Linked DNA regions of Homo sapiens: region 2 is linked to region 1. A link means that fine-mapping ties the variant in region 1 to the expression of a gene that starts in the linked region. Tissue or cell type: testis. Region 1 holds a variant in brackets; the other region holds the start of a gene. All regions are shown on one strand. Distances are from middle to middle.

The links. PIP is the estimated chance that this variant, and not a neighbour inherited with it, causes the effect.
Region 2: it holds the start of RPGRIP1, and the variant in region 1 is fine-mapped to the expression of RPGRIP1 in testis (GTEx, PIP 0.97).

The regions. Positions count from the first base shown.
Region 1 is chr14:21,304,113-21,312,112 of GRCh38, reverse strand. RPGRIP1 (RPGR interacting protein 1) reads right to left here. Exons shown (of 25, transcript NM_020366.4): 7 at 4,277-4,382; 8 at 1,506-1,529; 9 at 143-289. Among named protein-coding and RNA genes, the nearest start is that of RPGRIP1, 28 kb to the right of the region's middle. RefSeq lists enhancers at 2,720-2,879, 2,702-3,229. The variant T/G (reference allele first, on the strand shown) is at 3,752.
Region 2 is chr14:21,274,407-21,285,763 of GRCh38, reverse strand. It overlaps RPGRIP1 (RPGR interacting protein 1), which reads right to left and starts at 5,681. Exons shown (of 25, transcript NM_020366.4): 1 at 5,605-5,681.

The DNA.
Region 1 (8,000 bases):
AATCTTAAGCAAATGATTTAACTACTCGGAGCTTCGTTTTTGTCATTTGAAAAAATGCAATACTCATATTGTTGCTAAGATACACATTCTAACATCCCTGAAGTTGAAATGTAGATGGTATCTTTCAACTATTATTATTTACCTCCTTCAGAGTCATCTGCAAGATAGACACATCTTCCAGTTGGCTCTTCAAGCTCACAGCCTTCTTGCTTTCTTCCTTCAGCTCTGCCCTGAGCTCATTCACTTGCTTGAGGAGGGCCTCATGGGCTGCACTCAGGATTCCCTGATTCTGGGTCAAAAGGAAAGTACCTCTGGGAATGGTCATATCACTCAGCACGAGTGGTCTCCAGACACCAGCAACCCTAGCATTCTCTAACAGATGTCACAAAGAATGACTTTGATTAATAGCTTATTACCTTTGTACTGTTCGTTAACCTTGTTTTTCACCCTAGCATTTCTCTGGAAGTATAATTTCCCTGGTAGGTAGGGTTTCCATTCTGGGCAATTGTAGTTCATCATTTGAGCTTTAATTTTCTTTTCTTGTATTTATTTATTTATTTATTTATTGAGACAGTCTCGCTCTGTTGCCCAGGCTGGAGTGCAATAGTGCTTGGCTCACTGCAACCTCTGCCTACCGGGTTCAAGCAATTCTCCTGCCTCAGCCTCCTGAGTAGCTGGGATTACAGGCATGAGCCACCACGCCCAGCTAATTTTTGTATTTTTAATAGAGACAGGGTTTCTCCATGTTGGCCAGGCTGGTCTCGAACTCCTGACCTTAGGTCATCCACCCGCCTCCGCCTCCCCAAGTGCTGGGATTACAGGCGTGAGCCACCGCGCCTGGCCCTTGAGCCTTAATTTTCTCAAGGTTCAAATTAATCCCTAGCTTTAAATTAGTTGCCACCTTCCAAAGCTGCCTTCACTTTCTAAGCTATTTGACTGCTTTTTTATGATGACTACGTTTGTACCTAGACAAGTGACATGTTAACTCCAGAAGTTCTGTGTGTGTTTCTGGCGGACTCCTCTGGTGAGGCACAGCTGGGTGGTCTCGTTTGGAACTCTGTCTTAGTGGTGATTCTTAAGCACAGACATTCACCTAGCTTCACATGCAGCCCACTCACAGTGGTGAATAGGGCCAAATATTTAAGACCATCTGAGAATACCTGCAACAACTTTGTTATATCTCATCACCTCACACATGCTAGAAGAATACTCTTAGGAAGTTTTGAGCAAATGCTATAATTTGCTCCAGCAATAGGCTTAAAAATACCATGCCAAATATTTCTCAACTACAATTTCATATTTCAATTTTTATGAAAACAGTGCAATAAGTATCTGTATCTTTTGATAATCATAATAGTATCATTTTTAACAGAAACTATATGACATAATAACATTGATTTAGTTAGCTAAATTCTGGTGTTATGTTACTTGGAGATGAACATAGATTTCTTTGGGTTTGATTATTCTGGTTACTAAGAAACAGAGACTCAATTCTCATTAAGTACCTTCTGGAGCAAGGTTTCGTATGCCTGGAAGAAAGAAATTATTATTATTTTATTGATTTATCAATTTCATGATATATTTATCACTGTAATATAATGCTTAACATTTTTAAAGACATTATAAAAATCCCACAAAACAAATCAATTTGTGTACTTGTTTACTAATTGTTGCTATTTTTCCCCTGCCCTAGCTTGCCAAGTAGTCTGTGACTGCAATCATTCACACCATTTCTCAAAAAAGAATGAAGGGTCATTTATTAACATTTGCATTGTACTTGGTGGATTATCCAAGAAAAATGTTTAATCTTAAATTAGGTACTGTTACTTAGCACACTTCAGAAAGATCTCTTCAGTTTTAGTAAAAAAAAAAGAATGATCATAACAACAGCTATAATTAGTTGAGTAGTTGCTATGTGTTACTATGTGTTTCATTACCTGCCACATCATGATCATTATAATCATTTCACACATATTATCTCATTTAATCCTTGTAGCAAATATGAGAGGTAAGTTTTCGTTTTTGTTTTTGAGACAGTCTCACTCTGTTGCCCAGGCTGGAGTGCTGCGGCACAATCTTGGCTCACTGCAACCTCGGCTTCCCAGGTTCAAGCAATTCTCCTTCCTCAACCTCCCAAGTAGCTGAGATTACAGGTGCCCCCCACCACACCTAATTTTTGTATTTTAGTAGAGACGGGGTTTCACCATGTTGGCCAGGCTGGTCTCAAACTCCTGACCTCAAGCGATCCACCCACCTCAGCCTCCCAAACTTTTTTTTTAAATTTATTTTTTATTTTTTAAAAAAGGTCAAATAATCTTGAGAGAGAAAAAAATTGATCATATCAACTTGCTTAAAACCCTTTCACATAGCTCTCTGCTGTTTGTAGGATAAAGTCTAAATTCCTAGCATGTTCTGTCTTTAATGACAACGAGAAAAAAAATTCTTAGTGTGTCCTTCATGACCAGACCTGATGTTTCTCACCTCTGCTCTCATGGAAAGCCCCCTCTTCTCTTACACACTTATTAACACAAGCTAATCTTTTAGTATTTCAGTATTTAACTCACAAATCTATTCCTTTATTAATCCTTTTCTTTTTTCTTTTTTTGAGACAAAGTCTCACGCTGAGGTGCCGTATCGGGATCTCGGCTCACTGCAACCTCTGCCTCCTGGGCTCAAGCACTCAAGCAATCCTCCTGCCTCAGCCTCCATAGTAGCTAGGACTACAGGCACACATCACGATGCCTGTCTAATTTTTCTATTTTTGATAGAGATGGGGTTTCGCCATGTTGTCTGGGCTGGTCTCGAATTCCTGAGCTCAAGTGATCCTCCCTCCTTGACCTCCCAAAGTGCTGGGATTACAGGCTCCAGCCACCGCACCCAGTCATTAATCCTTTTCTGATCTGGCACTGTTAAAGGAGTTATTAAAAATAATTTTAGGCAGATAGAGAGGAAAAGGGGTCCTTGGAAAGTTTTCTCGTCCTTTAAAGCAGCTCCAGAAACGTTTTTTGTCTAGCAGGAAAGCCCTGGCTCTTACAGCCGGGAAGGCAACCTTTGATATGCAAATACAGGTCTTTAGAAACTGGGTCCACCCAAACATGGCGATTCCCGCCCTTGTCTTCCTGTCCTTTCCCCGACCTGTACCTGGCAACATGGCCACCCCCACATATCCCCACGTGTGTAGAACATCATGGCGCCCTTCATTTGCATATTAAAAGACTAGGGTAGGAGGGCCAGTTTTTTCCACAGGCTACATGAGTGACATGCCTGGTCAAACCAATCCCCTGAGCCCTATGCAAATCAGACACTACCTCCTCCTGCCTACTCATATAAGCAGCCACTTTTCCCGGCACATGAGGTCTCCCCTCTCTGCTTTGGAGTCCTTCTCCCTCTGTCTCAGTACAGGGGAGCTTCTTCCGTCTTTCTTCTCCCTTGTTTCTTGCCTATTAAACTCTCCGCTCCTTAAAGCCGCTCCACCTGTGTCCGTGTCGTTTTATCTAATTCGCGTGAGACAAGAGCCCTGGTGTTCCTCCACTTATCAGCCATATCAGCACCTCACCCACTGGTGGGTCTGACTACTCTCTCTTTTGTGTCCTGCCCATACCCTGCATAGGATAGTTGAATTTGTTTACTTGTTTTCTCACTCCTATAAACTCCTTGAAGGCAGTTTTTTCTTACTTACCCTTGGAATCTTTGTATCCCAGTGCTTTGCAATTCCTGGTACTGGATAAATATTTGTTCAATAAAAGGATGG[T/G]GCTGACCTTACTTTGACCCTTGATACTCTATTTCCACCAATCAGATGTTAGTTTCTAATGTGTGCTAATGCTAAATATACTTACCTTGAGGGCTGTTGTCAGGCTTAAAAAAGATCATGACTGTAAATATCTGGGACAGAGTACAGCTCACAGAAAGTGCTAATTAAAAGGCTAGTTTCCTTCCCTTCCCTGTGACTGCTTTTGGCTTCCTAATTTAATCACATTCTGGTTGTGGTCTTCGTAGGGGACCGTAACCCTTACACAAGTTAACTCCACTTTATTTCACCTTAGCAGGCAGAGCTTGAGCCTTCCTCTTAATAGAGAACTAATGGGAAATACTGGGAAAAGCATAGACTCCGAGTTGTGAGGCTTGGATTTGAATATCACTTATAAATTGTGTGATATCACTTATAAATTGTCTTTCTGAATTGTGGCTTCTCATATTTAAAATGGAGAAAATAATATGAATCTCTTAATTGGGGTTTCCCCCCACCAAGAAAGCACAGCTGATGATGGCAACTCACCTCTTGAACTTCTGTTAATTGTGCTTTTGTCATAACCAATGAAGCATTTCTTTCATGTAAGAGCTTCTTAAGTCGAATCAGCTCTACCTTCTCTTTAATGGAAGCTCTGCAGAGAAAGGCGCTAAATTATTCTGTCTGAACATGGATAGAATTAAAGACATTTTCTCCTTGACTATGCCCTAGTAAGAATACCTCCCTCTTGTCTCTTGCCTTCCCGTCTTACCCACACTAGAACACAAGTATGTGGTGTATGTACAGTCTAGTAAATAATCTCCTTTCTCCCATTTCTCATCACGCCAGCCAAGATTTGATAGAGATCACTAACCTTAAGCTTATGTTATGAGAAAAGATAATAACTACTTTTTTAAATGATGGTGTTCATAATTTCCCACAAACCTTGCAATGTCAAGCTAGGTCTCAGCCGTTTCCTTAGAGAAACCAGTGAGGTTTGAACGTGCTAGAAAACTTAAAAAGAAGATTATGAACCAGGCACCGTGGCTCACGCCTATAATCCCAGCACTTTGGGAGGCTGAGGCGGGCAGATGGCCTGAGGTCAGGAGTTGGAGACCAGCCTGGGCAACATGGCAAAACCTTGTCTTTACTAAAAACACAAAAGTCAGATGGGTGTGGTGGCATAAGCCTGTCATCCCAGCTATGGACACTGGGCAAGAGAATCGCTTGAACTGCGGGAGGCGGAGGTTGCAGTGAGCTGAAATCAGCTTAGGCAACAGAGTGAGATTCTGTCTCAAAAAATAACAATAGTGGCCGAGTGCGGTGGCTCAGGCCTGTAATCCCAACACTTTGGGAAGTTGAGGCGGGCAGATCACGAGGTCAAGAGATTGAGACCATCCTGGCCAACATAGTGAGACCCCATCTCTACTAAAAATACAAAAATTAGCTGGGTGTGGTGGTGCGCACCTGTAGTCCCAGCTACTCAGGAGGCTGAAGCAGGAGAATTGCTTGAACCTGGGAGGGGGAGGTTGCAGTGAGCCGAGATTGCACCACTGCACTCCAGCCTGGCGACAACAGAGTGAGACTGTCTCAAAAAATAATGATAATAATAATAATAATAGTAAAATACACCCGGCACGGTGGCTCACGCTTATAATCCCAGCACTTTGGAAGGCTGAGGCGGGTGGATCACGAGGTCAAGAGATTAAGACCATCCTGGCCAACGTGGTGAAACCCCGTCTCTACTAAAAATACAAAAATTAGCTGGGCATGGTGGCGCACACCTGTAGTCCCAGCTACTCGGGAGGCTGAGGCAGGAGAATCACTTGAACCTGGGAGGTGGAGATTACAGTGAGCTGAGATCTCGCCACTGCACTCCAGCTTGGGTGACAGAGTGAGTCTCTGTCTCGGAAAATAAAAATAAAATAAAATAAAATAATAGAAAGAAGATTAGGCTGGGCGCAGGGGCTCACGCCTGTAATCCCAGCACTTTGGGAGGTCGAGGAAGGCGAATCACCTGAGGTCAGGAGTTCGAGACCAGCCTGGCCAACATGGTGAAACCCCCTCTCTACTAAAAATATAAAAATTAGCCAGGTGTGGTGGTGGGTGCCTGTAATCCCAGCTACTCAGGAGGCTGAGGCAGGAGAATTTGCTTGAACCCGGAAGATGGAGATTGCAGTGAGCTGACAAGGTGCCACTACACTTCAGCCTGGGCAACAAAGTGAGACTCTGTCTCAAAAAAAAAAAAAAAAAAAAAAAAAAAAAAAAAAAAAGACTATTATTCCTGAACCTAGGAGCTCACGTTTTCTTTATTGTTTGAAAGATTGAAAGAGATACTGGGGAGGATTTGGGTTCACTCCACTCTATCTCATTGATTCCCTGTCTAGCTGCTGATTAGAATAACCTGGAGAGATCTTAAAATTACACTGCCTGAATTCTACCCCCCAAATAATTGAAAGGGAATCTCAGAGATGGGGCCCAGGGATCTGTTATGGTCTTTTTTTGTTTTGTTTTGTTTTGTTTTTGAGACAGAGTCTTGCTCTGTTGCCCAGGCTGGAGTGCAGTAGCATAATCTTGGCCCAGTGCAACCCCTGCCTCTCGGGTTCAAGCTATTCGCCTGCCTCAGCCTCCCAAGTAGCTGGAATTACAGGCATGAGCCATCACACCCGGCTAATTTTGGTATTTTCAGTAAAGATGGGGATTCACCATGTTGGCCAGGCTGTTTTCGATCTCCTGACCACAAATGATCCACCCACCTTGGCCTCCCAAAGTACTGGGATTACAGGCATAAGCCACCGCACCCGGCCTGGATCTGTGGTTTTAAAATATCTCCAGGTTGAAAACTTATATCCATACAAAAAACGACACATAATGTTAATAGCAGCTTTATTCATAATTGCCAAAACTTGGAAGCAACTAAGACATCTTTCGGTAGCTGAATGGATAAATAAACTGGTACATGTAGACAATCGAATGTTATTTGGTGTTTTGAAAAAATGAGCTTTCAAACCTTAAAAGACATGGAGCAAGCTTAAATGCATATTACTAAGTGAAAGAAGCCAATTTGAAAAGGCCACATACTGTGTAATCCCAACTATATGACATTCTAGAAGAGGCAAAACTGGAGACAGTAAAAAGATCAGTGGTTGCCAGGACTGGAGGTAAAAGACATGACTAGGTGGAACACAGAGGACTTTTGGGGGAGTAAAGCTATTCTGTATGATGCTATAATGATGGATACATGTCCTTACACATTTGTCAAAACCCATAGAATGTACAACACCGGCCAGGCGCAGTGGCTTACGCCTGTAATCCCAGCACTTTGGGAAGCTGAGACAGGCGGATTACGAGGTCAGGAGATCGAGACCATCCTGGCTAACATGGTGAAACCCCGTCTCTACTAAAAATACAAAAAAATTAGCCGGGCATGGTGGCGGGCGCCTGTAGTCCCAGCTACTCAGGAGGCTGAGGCAGGAGAACGGCATGAACCCAGGAGGCAGAGCTTGCAGTGAGCCGAGATCACGCCACTGCCCTCCAGCCTGGGCAACTGAGCGAGACTCCATCTCAAAAAAAAAAAAAGAATGTACAACACCAAGAATGAACCCTAATGTAAACTATTAAATGATGGTCAGGTGATAATGATGTGTCAATGTAGTTTCACTGATTGTAACAAATGCACCACTCTGGTACGGGGTGCTGATAGTTGGGGAGGCTGTGTGTGTATGGAGGCAATGGGTATACAGGAACTCTATTTCCTGCTTAATTTTGCTATAAAACTAAAACTTGTCTGAAAAATACATTTTTAAAAAAGTTTTCCAGGAATTTATGCACAGAGAGGGCTAAGAATCCCTATCTGGTGATGAGGATGAAGTCGTTTTCCTTCTATATAGTGAGGCAGCAAATATCCTTTTATACATAAACTTATCTCCTTTAGGTTAATTTCTTTCTTTCTTTCTTTCTTTCTTTCTTTCTTTCTTTCTTTCTTTCTTTCTTTCTCTCTCTCCTTCCTCCCTCCCTTCCTTCCTTCCTTCCCTCCCTCCCTCCTTCCTTCTTTCCTCTTTTTTTTTTTTTTGACAGAGTTTTGCTCTTGTTGCCCAGGCTGGAGTGCAATGGTGCAATCTCGGCTCACTGCAACCTCCGCCTCCCAGGTTCAAGGGATTTTCCTGCCTCAGCCTCCTGAGTAGCTGGGATTACAGGCACCGGCCACCATACCTGGCTAGTTTTTTTGTATTTTTAGTACAGACGGGGTTTCACCACGTTGGCCAGGCTGGTC
Region 2 (11,357 bases), 28 kb after region 1:
TTTCCAGGGCCTGTAAAGCCCAACCTCAGCTGATCCGCTTCTTATTCCTCCAATCACACCTTGTACCTTCCTTCCTCTAGCTCACAACACTCCTCACCACTTGCCCTCTCTTTGCTCTCCCAACCATCAAGCTCTTTCTTGCTCTTTTTTTTTTTTTTGGAGATGGAGTCTCACTCTGTCACCCAGGCTGGAGTGCAGTGGCGCGATCTCAGCTCACTGTAACCTCCACCTCCCGAGTTCAAGTGATTCTCCTGCCTCAGCCTCCTGAGTAGCTCGGACTACAGGCACGTGCCACCATGCCCGGCTAATTTTTTGTGTTTTTAGTAGAGACGGGGTCTCACCATGTTAGCCAAGATGGTCTTGATCTCCTGATCTTGTGATCTGCCTGCCTTGGCCTCCCAAAGTGCTGGGATTACAGGCTTGAGCCACTGCACCTGGCCTCCTTCTTGCTCTTTATTTGGCTGACTCCATCTGATCCTTTGGTCTCTCAAGCATCTTTTCATTTGCCAGGAGGCCTTTCTCTGACTTTGGTAGCTGAACTGAGCACTTCCCCTTCTCTTACCAGTCTTATACTCTGTCACCTCACCCTGTTTATTTCCCTTGTGACATTTACTATACACAGAAACTACCTTCATTTATTTATACTAGTTTATTGTCTGTCCCCTCTCACTAAAACATAGTGACTTTGAAGGCAGAAAAATGGTTTATCTTGTTTACCTCTATAGATGCAGTACCCGAACAGTTATTGGCACATAGCAGGTACTCAACAAATAAACACCGAATGTATGAAAAGTAGAATGAACGAACAAGAGAGAGAATGACACTGAGGGACTGAAGTGAGTCAAAAAGTTCTTAAAGCATTCTGTTCTTGATTCCAGTCTTTTCCAGTTTTGTCTCCAAAATTTATGTCTCAGCTGGGAGCAGTGGTTCACGCCTGTATTCGCAGTACTTTGGGAGGCTGAGGCGGGCAAATCATCTGAGGTCAGGAGTTCAAGACCAGCTTGGCCAACATGGTGAAACCCTGTCTCTACTAAACATACAAAAATTTGCTGGGCGCGGTGACATGTGCCACGACAGAGTGATCCCAGTTACTCAGGAGTCTAAAGCAGGAGAATAGTTTGAACCCGGGAGGCGGAGGATGCAGTGAGCAGAGATCGTGCCACTGTACTCCAGCCTGGGTGACAAGAGAGAGATTCCATCTTCAAAAAAAAAAAAAAAAAAAATTTAGTTCTCCAGCCTTGACTTTCAGATTTGTACAAATTCTTTTTAAACATTTCCCCTTTCAAATGTTTCCCCTAGTAAACATACTAGACAACTGAAACTCACCTTTCCCAAAGAGGAATTGTAATTTCTCTTACCAGTCTGATTGTTTCCCAGTCTTTCCCTATTTCCATAAATGCCACTGTCTGGCTCTGTTCCTACCTTTAGGTTCTATAGTAGAGTCTTGTGCCCTATACAACAAATTCTCCCTTTTTGTTGAAGCTAGCTTGACTTGTCAACTGGAGAAGGGTGTTCAGAAGCTTATTTTGAACAAACAGAGAAATATAAAGAAGAAAGCAAAAAGTATAATGGAGAAATTCTATCACCTAGAGAAAATGTAAACATTGTATTGATCTGCTTTCCGGGCAATTTAACTTGAATTGGATAATTCATACTCTGTTCTGTAACATTTCATTTTTAAAAATCACAATAAATGGAGAGCATCTTTCCAATGTCATAGTCTTAAATAGATCTATACAGATTTCATAGCATGCCTATTTTAAGAAAGCTGAATAATCACCCCAAAGTTTAAGTACTTTCGCATGTTAGACCTAGGATTACAAGTAAATCTCAGGCCAGGCACGGTGGCTCACGTTTATAATCCCAACACTTTGGGAGGCTGAGGCGGATGGATCACCTGCGGCCAGGAGTTCGAGACTAGCCCAGCCACATGACAAAAGTTAGCTGGGCATGGTGACAGGCGCCTGTAATCCGGCTACTCGGGAGGCTGAGGCAGGAGAATCGCTTCAACCCGGCAGGTGGAGATTGCAGTGAGCCAAGATCGTGCCACTGCACTCCACTCCAGCCTGGGCAAAGCAGAGTGAGACTCTGTCTAAAAAAAAAAAAAAAGTAAATCTGCATTTAGTTTACAAGTAAATCTCCATTTGAAGTACCATATATAGGGGCTGGGCACAGTGGCTCATGCCTGTAATCCCAGCACTTTGGGAGGCCGAGGCGGGCAGATCACAAGGTCAGGAGTTTGAGACCAGCCTGGCTAACATGGCGAAACCCCATTTCTACTAAAAATACAAAAATTAGCTGGGTGTAGTGGCTCATGCCTGTAGTCCCAGCTGCTCTGGAGGCTGAAGCAGGAGAATCGCTTGAGCACAGGAGGCGGAGATTGCAGTGAGCCAAGATTACACCATTGCACTCCAGCCTGGGCGACAGTGTGAGACAGCTTCTCAAAAAATAATAATAATAAATAAAATAAATAGAGTAGCATCTACAGGTTTACTTAGTCACCCACCTTCCTAGTTTCCTACTGTAGAAAAGTAATGTGAAGGAAAAGGAAAGGTGACTGCATCATAAGCTTGGTCCTCTGGACCTGAAGCCATTTGCAAAAATGGAGCTGTAGTAGAAGGGATGCTGTTGTTCTTAATATCTGGGCCCAGAGCACATTGACGCACCACCAATGCTATATGGCACTATGGAGCAATTGAAAAGTATCATTAAAACTGAAGTCACAGAAGCTCTAAGAATGAAATGGAGTTTATTGGAATGCTAGAGAAGAAAAGCCAGTTGAGACTGTCAGTGAAGGCGTGTTGAACATCCAGTGGCCAGATTTAATTTCTCAGGAATGAAAAAGTGGAATGTAGGCCGGGCACAGTGGCTCACGCCTGTAATCCCAGCACTTTGGGAGGCCGAGATGGGTGGATCACAAGGTCAGGAGATCAAGACTATCCTGGCTAACGTGGTGAAACTCCATCTCTACTACAAAATACAAAAAATTAGCCGGGTGTGGTGGCACGCGCCTGTAGTCCCAGCTACTGGGGAGGCTGAGGCAGGAGAATGGCGTGAACCTGGGAGGCGGAGCTTGCTGTGAGCCGAGATCACGCCACTGCACTCCAGCCTGGGAGACAGAGCGAGACTCTGTCTCAAAAAAAAAAAAAAAAAAAAAATGGAATGTAGATTCTAAAAGGGTTTATCAATTGTTTTGAACTCAACAGGATGAAAGACTGAAGAAACTTCCACCCGGCGTGGTGGCTCACGCCTGTAATCCCAGCACTATGGGAGGCTGAGGCGGGCTGATCATGAGGTCAGGAGATCGAGACCATCCTGGTCAACATAGTGAAACCCCGTCTCTACTAAAATACAAAAAAATTAGCCAGGCATGGTGGTGCGTGCCTGTAGTCCCAGGTACTCAGGAGGCTGAGGCAGGGGAATTGCTTGAACCTGGGAGGCAGAGATTGCAGTGAGGTGAGATCACGCCACTGCACTCCAGCCGGGTGACAGAGCAAGACTCCGTCTTAAAAAAAAAAAAATTTCCTTGCAGTGATATTCAGAATTGCAGTGCACTTGGACAAGTATAGGTTAGTGAGGGTGAAGAACCCTTTACTAGTGATAGATGGATAGACGTATAAAGCCAGCTTGATGACATCAGCAATTAAAATTTTCTTTTCCTCTTTTTTCGAGACAGAGTATCACATTGTTGCCTGGGCTGGAGTGCAATGTTGCAATCTCAGTTTACTGCAACCTCCGCTTCCCGGGTTCAAGCGATTCTCCTGTCTCAGCCTCCAGAGTAGCTGGGATTACAGGCACCTGCCACCATGCCCAGCTAATTTTTTGTATTTTTTAGTAGAGACAAGATTTCACAATTTTGGCCAGGCTGGTCTCGAACTCCGGACCTTGGGATCCGCCAGCCTCGGTCTCCCAACGTGCTGGGATTACAGGCATGAGCCACCCTGCCCAGACTTCTTTTTTTTCTTTTTTACACTCTGTATCACTGGGCAAGCATTTAAAATTTTGTAGCCAGTTCCCCTTACTCTGATTATTATTATTATTATTATTATTATTATTATTTATTTTTTTTTTTTTTGAGACAAGGTCTCACTCTGTTGCCCAGGCTGGAGTACAGCGGTATGCTCTCGCCTCACTGCAACCTCTGCCTCCAGGGTTCAAGCAATTCTCATGTCTCAGCCCCCCAGGCAGCTGCAATTACAGGCGCAAGCCGCCACGCCCAGCTAATTTTTCTATTCTTAGTAGAGACAGGGTTTTGCCATGTTGGCCAGACTGGTCTTGAACTCCTGATCTCAAGTGATCCACCCGCCTCAGCCTCCCAAAATGCTGAGATTACAGGTGTGAGCCAACACGCCTGGGCCAAGAGTAGATTTTTAAGTGTTCTCATCAAACACAAAAAATTGATGAGCATATGAGGTAATACATATTTTAATTAGCCCAAGATTGGGCAGGTGTGGTGGCTCACGCCCGTAATCCCAGCACTTTGGGAGGCCAAGGCGGGCAGATCACAAGATCAAGAGATCAAGACCATCCTGGCCGTGGCCAACATGGTAAAACCCTGTCTCTACTAAAAATGCAAAAATTAGCTGGGCATGGTGGTGCGCACCTGTAGTCCCAGCTACTCGGGAGGTTGAGGCAGGAGAATTGTTTGAACCCAGGAGGCAGAGGTTGCAGTGAGCCGAGATTGAGCCACTGCACTCCAGCCTCACGAGAGAGAGAGATTCTGTCTCAAAAAAAAAAAAAAGAAAAGCCCAAGGTAGCCATTTTCCACTCTCTCTATATATATATTTCAAAGCAACAAATTTTACACAATAAATATATACAATTTCAAATTGTCAATTAAAAATTAATTAATTTGAAAAGGAGTTTTATTCATTCTGCAGATAGTGGATACATTTCTGAGCAAAAGAGCAATATAATTAGAGCTATGGAAGAGCATTAGGAAGATTCATCTACTATTAGTGATTTGGAAATTGGGGAGAGAACAGTGTTAAGAGGATATTGCTATAGTTCAGGCAAGAAGTCTTGAACTAGGGAAGGAGGGGGGTGGGGGATGGAAGAATAGGATGGATCATGAAGACACTGAGGAAGGAGAATCAAAAGATGTGACAACTGGTTGGACGTGAGATAGAGTTAAGAGGGTGACAGGATTAAAGATGACTTGGTAATGTTGTGCTGGATGCCTGGGAGACTGGTGGTACAATAGAAAATGAATAAACCAGGCCAGGCGCGGTGGCTCATGCCAGTAATCCCAGCACTTTGGGAGGCCGAGGCGGGTGAATCACCTGAGGTCAGGAGTTCAAGACCAGCCTGGCAAACATGGTGAAACCCCGTCTCTACTAAAAACACAAAAATTAGCCGGGCAATGGTGGCGCATGCCTGTAGTCCCCAGCTACTTGGGAGGCTGAGGCAGGAGAATCGCTTGAACCTGGGAGGCAGAGGTTGCAGTGAGCAGAGATAGTGCCGGTGCACTCCAGCCTGGGCGACAGAGTAAGACTCTGTCTCAAAAAAAAAAAAAAAAAAAAGAATAAACTTATTTCATTCTTCTCAAAAACACCCCTAGGGAAGACATAGGAAACTATAAATATGCATCAGATAGAAACTTACAGTTCTTGCTTGCTCCAGATAGCTGTCGCTAATTCTTTTCTCTCAATGTTCTGGTGTCCTTTAGTACTCTAGGTTCCAATAAGCTTGTCCTTCTGGCTTGTTAAAAGAGGAGCTAATCCAGTTCTGTTTAGCTTTTAAGATGTTAACTCTTTGTAGATCAGAGTGTGTGAAGGCTGTGCTTTTTCTCTATGCATGTTTGACTTGGAGAAAGAGCAGCTTAAAGGGTCCTTAACAGATCCACTTCTCAACTAAAACTAAAGCTGAGAACACATTTGCGGGATTTGAGATTAAAAGAAATTTGTTGGTATTCAGAGGATGATCTTTAAATCTTTTATTTATTTATTTATTTATTTTGAGACAGAGTTTCACTCTTGTTGCCCAGGCTGGAGTGCAATGGCGCGATCTCGGCTCACCGCAACCTCTGCCTCCCAGGTTCAAGCAATTCTCCTGCCTCAGCCTCCCGAGTAGCTGGGATTACAGGCATGCACCACCACAGCCAGCTCACTTTGTATTTTTAGTAGAGATGGAGTTTCTCAATGTTGAGGCTGGTCTCGAACTCCTGACCTCAGGTGATCTGCCCGCCTTGGCCTCCCAAAGTGCTGGGATTACAGGCTTGAGCCACCGCGCCCGGCCGATATTCTTTAAATCTTTATCTGAAGGGCAACAACAGTGGGAGTTGTTCTGAAGCCCTGAGATCCCTTTGAAGAGAACAAACACTGCACCGTTGGTGGGATCAACATGCCTATTCAGTCCACATGTGCCAGTGCTTTCGAGTAAGAGAATGTATATCTTCCATTTCACCGTGACCACCGTTTTGAAACCAAACTTTGGGATGTAATTATGAAGCAATAGGATTTGATATAAGAAAATTAAATGTTCTTAAAAATTCTGCAAGGCTGGTCACTGCATTCATATTATATATTAAGTGGAATACGGTCTCAATTGTTACATAAAATCCTCTTTATTTATTTATTTATTTTGAGATGCAGTTTCGCTCTTGTTACCTAGGCAGGAGTGCAATGGTGCGATCTCGGCTCACTGCAACCTCTGCCTCCCGGGTTCAAGCAATTCTCCTGCCTCAGCCTCCTGAGTAGCTGGGATTACAGGCATGCGCCACCACGCCCAGCTAATTTTGTATTTTTACTAGAGACAAGGTTTCTCCATGTTGGTCAGGCTGGTCTCGAACTCCCGACCTCAGGTGATCCACCTACCTTGGCCTCCCAAAGTGCTGGGATTACAGGCCTGAGCCACCACGACTGGCCTAAATCCTCTCTTTAATGCACTGAATGGGTGCATTGAGAAAGCTCCATTCTGGTTATTGGCATGAGGTTCGGGGATTTCCAGGAGGATGAACACATAGTTAATGGGCCCCATGTGACTTCCTCTAAATCCCATGAAATAATAAAATAAAATAAAATAAAATAAAGCTAGGGAGACAATTAGGAAGTAGAGAAAGTATCCAGGACACATACATTTCCCAGTGAAGAGAGGAAAATTCAATATAATATTTTACCAGGTTTAAATGACAGATTTATAAAATTTAAAAGCTGGGCTTTTATGCACTTAAGGTTGCTTCTTGCCCAAGCTATTTCTTGATAAATCTGGGATTTTCTGTCCTTTTTTAAGATGCTCTAGCCAGAGACAGTGCAGGACAAAATTAATTTTGAAGTAAGCCAAGTTTGTGTTTGATAATCGTGTTCTCTTTTCTGAACCTCTGACTTTTGTTAATTTTTTTTTTTTTTTTTTTTTGAGACGGAGTTTTGCTCTTGTTGCCCAGGCTGGTGTGCAATGGCACAATCTTGGCTCACTGCAACCTCTGCCTCCCGGGTTCAAGAGATTCTCCTGCCTCAGTCTCCCTAGTGGCTGGGATTACAGGCACCCGCCACCACACCCAGCTAATTTTTTGTATTTTTAGTAGAGATGAGGTTTCACTATGTTGGCCTGGCTGGTCTTGACCTCCTGACCTCAGGTGATTCACCCGCCTTAGCCTCCCACAGTGCTGGTATTACAGGCGTGAGCCACCATTCCCGGCTGACTTTTGTTAATTTTTAAAACATCTCCTACCTCTTTCAGGCAACCAGTTTCCCTTAACATTCTCATTACATCTTGGAGTGAATTTACGTGATACTTTTTCCACTAGGCTTAATGTACTTCTCAATGTAGACAGTAAGACTTTGTTCTGTGTTAAAGAAATTTCAGGCCGGGCACGGTGGCTCACACCTGCAATCCCAGCACTTTGGGAGGCTGAGGTGGGTGGATCACCTGAGGTCAAGAATTCGAGACCAGCCTGACCAACATGGTGAAATCCCATCTCTACTAAAAATACAAACATTAGCTGGGCGTGGTGGCAGGCACCTGTAATCCCAGCTACTCACCAGGCTGAGGCAGTGAGAATCACTTGAACCCCAGAGGCGGAGGTTGCAGTGAGCCGAGACTGCACCATTGCACTCCAGCCTGGGCAACAAGAGCAAAACTCCATCTCAAAAAAAAACAAAAAGAAATTTCAGTCATTGGCCAGGCTTGGTGGCTCACACCTGTAATCCCAGAACTTTGGGAGGCCGAAGTGGGTGGATCACCTAAGGTCAGGAGTTTGAAACCAGCCTGGCCAACATGGTGAAACCCTGTCTCTACTAAAGATACAAAAACAATTAGCTGCGCGTGGTTGTGAGTGCCTGTAATCCCAGCTACTCTGGAGGCTGAAGCAGGAGAATCACTTGAACCGGGGAGGCGGAGGTTGCAGTGAGCCGAGATTGCGCCACTGCACTCCAGCCTGGGCGACAGAGCAGAACTCTGTCTCAAAAAAAAAAAAAAAAAACAGAAATTTCAGGTCAGGTGCTGTGGCTCATGCCTATAATCCCTGCACTTTGGGAGGCCGAGGTGGGCGAATCATGGAGGTGGAGGTTGCAGTGAACCGAGATCTTGCCACTGCACCCCAGCCTGGGCAACGAAGCGAGACTCCAGCTCAAAAAAAAAAAAAAAAAGTTAAAATACAAAGGTCCCCTGAGGCCTGGCATGGTGGCTCGCATCTGTAATCCTAGCACTTTGGGAGGTTAAGGCAGCCAATGACTTGAGGCCAGGAATTCAAGACCAGCCTGACCAACATGGCAGAATCTGTCTTACTAAAAATACAAAGAAATTAGCCAGACGTGGTGGCGCATACTTGTAATCCCAGCTATCCGGGAGGGTGAGGTGGGAAGATGGATTAGATCCGGGCAGTGGAGGGTGCGGTGAGCCGAGATGGCGCCACTGCAATCCAGCCTGGGCAACAGAGGGAGACCCTGTAAAAAAAAAAAAAAAAAAAAAAAGGCCAGGTGCGGTGGCTCACTCCTGTAATCCCAGCACTTTGGGAGGTTGAGGCGAGTGGACCATGATGTCAGGAGATTGAGACCATCCTGGCCAACATGGTGAAACCCCGTCTCTACTAAAAATACAAAAATTAGCTGGGCTTGGTGGTGCCTGCCTATAATCCCAGCTACTCAGGAGGCTGAGGAAGTAGATTAGCTTGCACCAGGGAGTCGGAGGTTGCAGTGTGTGGAGATGGCACCACTGCACTCCAGCCTGGCGACAGGGCAAGACTCCATCTCAAAAACAAAAGAAAAACCAAACAAGCCAGGTGCAGTGGCTCACTCCTGTAATCCCAACAGTTTGGGAGGCAGAGGCGGGTGGATCACTTGAGGTCAGGAGTTCGAGACCAGCCGGGACAACATGGCGAAAACCCGTCTCTACTGAAAATACAGGCCAGGCGCGGTGGCTCACGCCTGTAATCCCAGCACTTTGGGAGGCCGAGACGGGTGGATCACAAGGTCAGGAGATCCAGACCATCCTGGCTAACACCGTGAAACCCCGTCTCTACTAAAAATACAAAAAATTAGCCGGGCGCGGTGGCAGGCGCCTGTAGTCCCAGCTACTCGGGAGGCTGAGGCAGGAGAATGGCGTGAACCTGGGTGGTGGAGCTTGCAGTGAGCCGAGATCGCGCCACTGCACTCCAGCCTGGGCGACAGAGCGAGACTCCATCTCAAAAAAAAACAAAACAAAAATTAGCTGAGCGTGGTGGCGCACTCCTGTATTTCCAGCATCTGGAGGCTGAGGCAGGAGAATCACTTGAACCTGGGAGAGGGAGGCTGCAGTGAGCCCAGATCGCACCTCTGCACTCCAGCCTGGGCTACAGAGGGAGACTCCCTCTCAAAAAAAAAAAAAAAAAAAAAAAAAAGGAAAAGACCCTGCATAAATTTTATATTTGAAAATGTGGGCCAGATAGTTCACATAGTATTTTTATGCCATCTAGATTTGCTCAAGAGCTCAGTTTGTACCATAATAGTAAAATAAGCACTGACAATGAAATGTGACCTTTGTCAACTAAAAAAGCATTTTGTAAGTTGTACAAAGATTAGCTTAATGAAAAATTACCAGAGGATAAAATCCTGTGCTTCAGAGCCAGAATGAGAACAGATGGCAAATACGTTAAAGAAGGCTTAACCTACAGGAAGCCAGATTTAGGTCACTGCTGAGATGAAAATTAGCAGAGGAACAAAGAAGACAAAGGAAAAGTAGGAGAAAAACATTAAGTAGAAAGTGAAAAGAGAAATTGAAGAAACAAGAAAGAAATTAGAAGTTTATATGTTCCTTTTTTCAGAAATGAGGTCTCACTATGTTGTTCAGGCTGGAGTGCAGTGGCTGCTCACAGACACAATCATAGCATACTGCCAGGAACTCCGGGGGTCAAGGGATTCTCCTGCCTCAGCCTCCTGAGTGGCTGCGACTACAGGCACCCACTACCATGCCCCACTATTTTTCATTAAAAAAAAATATTTTGGCCGGGCGTGGTGGCTCACGCCTATAACCCCAGCACTTTGGGAGGCCGAGGTGGGCATACCACGAGGTCAGGAGTTTGAGACCGCTTGGCCAACATGGTGAAACCCCATCTCTACTAAAAATACAAAAATTAGCTGGGCATGATGGCACAAGCCTATAGTCCCAGCTACTTGGGAGGCTGAGGCAGGAGAATCGCTTGAACCTGGGAGGTGGAAGCTGCAGTGAGCCGAGATCGTGCCACTGCACTCCAGCCTGGCGACTGAGCGATACTCTGTCTCAAAAAAAAAAAAAAAAAAAATTTAAGAGATGTTGCCCAAGCTGGAGGATGTTTTTAAAATAAAGTCACTTATTTTCAAATATCTTCTGAAGGGGCTTGAAGTCTCTATTATATAGGTCTCATAGCACCTTCTTACTTATTTTCAGTAGCACTCACAATTTAGTATAAACAATTAATTGAGTAATTATCCATTTAATATTTGATTCTGTTCTGAAGGGCAGGGCCATGTCTGTTTTGTTTACTTCTATGCTCTTGTGGCATCAGCTAATTACATAGTACGTTTAACAAGTATTGTTGAGTGAATGGGTAGGATTTTCCCACCTTGGCATACATTACATTATTAATAATAGTGTAATGGTTATTTGCATATCCTCTAGAACTAGACCTCCTAGCATTAGAATCTTTTTTTTTTCTCTTTTTGAGACACGGTCTTGCTGCTGGTAGCTAAATCCTGGTCTCCAGGGATCCTCCTGCCTCAGCCTCCTGAGTAGCTGGGATTACAGGCTTCCGAGTGTCTAGCTATAGTGTCAGAATCTTGCACCACCAAAAACTAGTTGTGTGACCTTAGGCAAATTACTTAACCTTTCTGTGCTTTCATTTCTACATCTTTAAAATGGGGATAATAAAATTATCAAATGAGCTAATTCATGTGAAACACTTAGAA